Linked DNA regions of Homo sapiens: region 2 is linked to region 1. The links come from fine-mapping of genetic effects on gene expression. Tissue or cell type: caudate. Region 1 holds a variant in brackets; the other region holds the start of a gene. All regions are shown on one strand. Distances are between the middles of the regions.

Region 1 (2,768 bases):
TACCCCAATAACTTATGGAAAAATAAAATTAAAAAAATTAAAATGCCACTTTTATTTAAATTTTGCTGAATGTTAAACAGCAGCACTTAAATATTGGTTTGTAATAATTTCTAAAATGGGAACATTTTGAACAGCAACAATCAGCCATGCTTTTATATGTATGCCTGTATGTATGTGTGTGTGAAAATGGAAAAGAAATTGTGTTTAAAGTTTTCGACTTATAGTCTACTTTTGCCCCATGCTCTGTTGATAATATCACTGTTTTAGGCCTACTCATTTAATCAAACTGTGAAGTTTTCTTGAGCATGTGTTTAAATCTTAGGGAAAACATTAAATCCATTTCAGACTGTAAACTCTGTGTGGACAGGAACCACACTTATTCTCTAGGACACATTCAGAATCTGGCAAGTTGCCCTCTGAGTTCTTTCAATAGTCATCCAATAAAGTATGAATCAAGCTTCTATTTTGTGCCACCTGATGAGCACAGCCAACAAAGACCAGGTTACCAGCTCCATGGGGCTTACAGTCTTGCTAGTTAGCACTTAAAAGCCAATTAATAAATGAAGGAAAGAAGGGAGGGAGGGAGGGAGGAAGGAAGGAAGGAAGGAAGGAAGGAAGGAAGGAAGGAAGGAAGGAGAAAACAAAAGAAGAAACATTATTTAAAAAAAAACACCAGGTTTGGTGAAACTGAGTGTTTTCTCATGATGTCTGTCCAGTTTCTTATAGCATGCTTATTTGTGCATTCGCTTTCAATTAGGACCATTTGGGAAGTAGAATTTCATCTTTCATCAGATGTTTAAAGAGACCGCAAAAAAATCAAAACCTTGAAAATAATTTTAATAACGCTTATAACCAGAGGGCAAGTAAAGTTTGAATTAAATGTTCAAATGTAATACAATATATTCATTTCATATAATTCATAATATGAACTCCCTGTTTTTTTATGTTTCTCCCTACCACTAGATAGGGTTCCTTGAGGGCAGTGATGGCGTCTTTTTCATCTTAGTATCCCCAGCACCACCCAGCATGGTGTCTGCCACTTAGTTAGAACGTGAAAACATTTGTTGTCTAAATGAATGCATGAATGTTGAATGACTTCTTGCGTCTTAAAACACAGCATACAACTTTGCCAGTTTTAACGTACAATGACAACATTTACCTAAGCCTGACTCCCATGAGAACATTATACTACTTCTTCCTTTATAACTCAAACTAGTTTAATTAGCATGCA[T/C]TGAACACTAATCCAATACAATGTACCCATTCAGACTCTTGTCTGGCTTGTAAAAGATTTCAAACACAGAGTAACAAAATGTTACTCCTGAAAAAGGGAGCAAAATCAGAATAAACAGAATAAAAAGACTTGGAAAATGTATAGATGCCTTCAATCACGGTTGATCTTGTTTTTAAGATTCTTTGACTTGCGCAATATTTAAAAGCCACAGAGGAAAGCAAAAATTTGGTAAGTAAAGCCTAATTCTTTTCATGTTAAAAGTTAAGCAGATGCAAGAGACTCCAGCAATAATGGATGTGCCATCGACGCATTCAAATGCAGATGACTAATTTATTCAAGCTGTATGTTAGCTTCCTTGTGCTCATTAGTTGTTGTAATGGACAGACATATTCTGGGAATTACTAATGCTCTGAAATAGGAACAGGGGCTGGTAAGAGACACTGGCTAATGAAGCCAGACGTTTTAAAAGATTATTTTTTCTGTAAGTGGAAGAAACAGTGATTACAAGTGCTTTATTCTTCCTCTCCTGCTTGCAGATTTGTGACTACATTTAACACCTTAAAGAAAGAGCTTTTTAGGACAGATACACATGTATGATTTCTCATTTTACTCAGTAAATCATTTTACACCTCACTGAAAGTCCTGAATTTCCACCACTATTAATAGCATTTTCATAAGGATATATAGCTGTATTGGCCACTGGCCTGACTTGGTATGATGCATTCCATGAAGTTACATGTTTGCTTTTTGTAAACCTATGCCCTGAATTACAGACTGCTATTTAAAAGCATATAAAGATGCAAGCAAATCCATTATAATGGGATTGAATGTATCTGTATGGATAGTAAAAGTTTAAAACTGAAATGTACAAGTGTTCAGAGAAAGCCTAATTTCACTTCCAGAGAAAAGACTTCACAGAAATGAGATTCCATGAGTTCCTAAAACTACCCAGGAGAGCACTCTGGAATATTCAATAGTATATAGCACTTTTTAGTTTATAAAGCACATTCATTTATGATCTATCTGATTTATTTCTCATCTAAACCTTGTTATAACAACTGATACTTTTGTTTACATATGAGGCGCCAGGCTTCCTATTAAGAACTTAAATGCATTGTCTTTGCCTGTGAGGTAGATATCACTATTCCTCTATGTTAATTAGGGTAAGTCAAACTGCTATAACATACAGTCTGAATATTCAATGGATTTGAAAGAAATGTATACTGGAGTAGAAGTTCCCCATTAGAAATAGCTCTGCATCATGCTGACATTTAGGAACCGAGGCTTGAGTAACTAGCTACCATCTTCACAATGCAACCTCCCACGTCACCATGTTACTCCCACCGGGGTTACTTACAAGGAGGAAAAAGGACATTGGTGCCTTAGGTGATGGTAGATGGTGGTGCATGCAAGTTTGTATTGTCCAAACTTGGAAGTGGTATACATCTCTTCCACTTATATTTTATTGGCTAGAACTCTGTCACATGACTAAAGCTGCAAGACGGGCTGAGAAACACAGTCCAATTGTATGCCTTAG
Region 2 (2,615 bases), 130 kb after region 1:
AATCATATTTGATTAGTAAGAGTAGAATCCTCAACACTCTGTTGACTCAAGAATCTCCTGAAATCAGGCGGTTTGTTCCCACTGTTTTGAATTTAGGTCTTTTTCAACTAGTATTTATGTTCAATAAACAACTTAACATAGCTGTTTTAACCTTCCTTGTTATTCAAGAAAGCAAAGACCACAGCTCTCAACTTATATGGGATAGCCAACCCGGAGGCTATTCTCAAGGTTGTTTTAAAATCTTCAGCTTTAAAAATTTTATTTGCTGAATAATTCAAATACAGAATCTTATATGTCTATCACTTCCCAGTGGGATCTTCTCAAGGCAATTCATGAAGCAGTTTGCAGAAGATAAATTACATTTTTTTGAAAACTGTGAGTTATAAGATAAAGAGCACATCACTGTCACACGCAATTAGGAGAGACTAAGATGTTACCTGCTTTAAACTTGTATTTAACAATTCTCTTCTCCTTTTTTTCCTTAGGGGAAGTGATTCAGTTAGACAAATTCTTAGTCGTAAAGCTCAGCAAAGACAGATGTCAGCCAGCTTTAGTTCAGTTGAACAATGTGGGGGTTAGGATGCTGATCCCTGCACAGTTGAAAATTCATGTATAACTTTTGACTCTCCCAAAACTTAACGACTTATAGCCTACTGCTGGCCAGAAGCCTAACCAATAACACAATTAACACATATTTTATATGCTCTGTGTATTATATACAGTATTCTTACAATAAAGTAAGCTAGAGAAAAGAAAATGTTATTAAGAAAGTCATAAGGGGGATGAGTGCAGTGGCTCATGCCTGTAATCCCAGCATTTTGGGAAGCTGAGGCAGGTGGATCACTTGAGGCCAGGAGTTCCAGACCAGCCTGGCCAACATGGCGAAACCCCATCTCTACTAAAAGCATAAAAATAAGCGGGCATGGGGGCACATGTTTGCAATCCCAGCTACTCCAGAGGCTGAGGCAGGATAATTGCTTGAACCTGGGAGGCAGAGGCTGCAGTAAGTTGAGATCGCGCCACTGCACTCCAGCCTGAGCGACAGAGTGAGACTCTGTCTCAAAAAAAGAAAGGAAGGAAGGAAGGAAGGGAGGAAATACCTGGAGGGGGCGCCTGGGCTTTGTATTATTTTGTTTTGGGAAAGAAAAGAAAGAAGAAAAGAGAAACGAAATGAAAAGAAAATAAAATCATAAAGAGGAGAAATACATTTACTATTAGTTAAGTAGAAGTGGACAATCATATAGGTCTTCATCCTCATCTTCACATTGAAGGGACGGAGGAGGAGGAGGAACGGTTGGTCTTGCTGTCTCAGAGGTGGCAGAGGTGGAAGAAAATCTGAGTATAAGTGAACCCATGCAGTTCAAACCCATGTTGTTCTAGGGCCAACTGCATTTTTAAAATAACTGCTTTGGAAGATCTGTGTGTATGTGTGTGTATGATCTGAGAAATTAGTTAGAAGAAAAGAGGAACGAGGAGTAGAAAAATACCAGCATTTCTGATGGTCAGTTTCTTTTAATTATAGAGAGAATTCAGCGTTCACCAAAGTTGGCTTAATTACTCATTTTCTCAGTAGAAAATTTCTAAGTGTGGGGTTTGACTGATTTTTACAGAAAGAGAATAGAAGTCTTTCAAATTTGTGGGTAAGAATGATTCACCCTTCTTGCTTTTGTTAAGAAATAATTGTGAATGTTAAATTACATTAATTTTGCTGCCTGAATTGAGTTTTGAATGCTTGCTATTTCTTTCTCAGCCAAAGGATATTTAAAATGATGCCAATGGAACTCATTGATTTTAACTACAATATTTGTTGAAAACAAATACGTATATCAAGGTTACTTCATATGTCTTTTTCAAACAAAATCTCTTCCTGTGGGTGGATGTTTAACAGAAATTACACTTAGGTATTGCCAAACTTCAAAGAAAGGAAGACTTACTCATCTTTTGGATGGAGAAAGGATTCATTTACCAGACCTGACTTGGTGATTGCAGATCTTTGACTGAATTGCCTCGGAGTCTAGATTTCTCTGATAAAGAAAGACTCATTCAAACTCAGTAAATCACAAGAAAAAGAAAGAAAAATGGGGAGGAGGGAATGGGATCAATATTCTAAAAGTCTAGGATTCTAGTTTAGTTTAATTTTATAGTTATATGATGAAGAAGAGAGGAGAAGCCTGGCTAGAAAGGTGGATGTTTGTCACTCAATTAATGTTTTTTTGCTTTTACCCAATTCATGTTCTTGAAGCTGCTACATTTACTGACCTACAATAAGTGTAGAGAGGATGAACTATATTGATAATCCTGTTTATTGACCAGATTGAATACTCAGGTTTGATTTTTGCATTTTTGGATATGTTTTAAAGGTAGAAGATCTTAAATTCATATTCAAAATACCTTTTATCCTGCCTTTCACTTAAGGAAAATTATCTGGAAATTGAAAGTCCTCCAGGCAAAGGTCTGGCTGTGATATTACTTCTGGGCGACACTTCTCACAAGAGGGAAGATAAGTAAATTGCTCTGACTGCTTTTTATTCTTGAGGTTCCTGCTCCCCCCAATCCCCTGCCTGCAAAGTTATTAGATAAGTAAAATAAGGTTGAAGAAACATAAGGGATAGTCT

Direction of the effects. Positions count from the first base shown, and alleles are read on the strand shown. Sizes are in standard deviations (SD) of each study's normalised expression.
For the expression in caudate of the gene that starts at base 1,607 in region 2, allele T in region 1 goes with a lower level than allele C (moderate effect, 0.72 SD a copy in GTEx).

Evidence for each region. PIP is the estimated chance that this variant, and not a neighbour inherited with it, causes the effect.
Region 2: it holds the start of SLC39A12-AS1, and the variant in region 1 is fine-mapped to the expression of SLC39A12-AS1 in caudate (GTEx, PIP above 0.99). The same link has a PIP of 0.9 or more in amygdala, cerebral cortex, hypothalamus, nucleus accumbens and putamen.

What each region holds. Positions count from the first base shown.
Region 1 is chr10:18,134,953-18,137,720 of GRCh38, reverse strand. No RefSeq gene overlaps it. Among named protein-coding and RNA genes, the nearest start is that of CACNB2, 4.1 kb to the left of the region's middle. RefSeq lists an enhancer at 832-1,798. The variant T/C (reference allele first, on the strand shown) is at 1,232.
Region 2 is chr10:18,009,554-18,012,168 of GRCh38, reverse strand. It overlaps SLC39A12-AS1 (SLC39A12 antisense RNA 1), which reads left to right and starts at 1,607. Exons shown (of 5, transcript NR_038419.1): 1 at 1,607-1,640; 2 at 2,416-2,504. All of the region lies in intron 12 of SLC39A12 (solute carrier family 39 member 12), which reads right to left.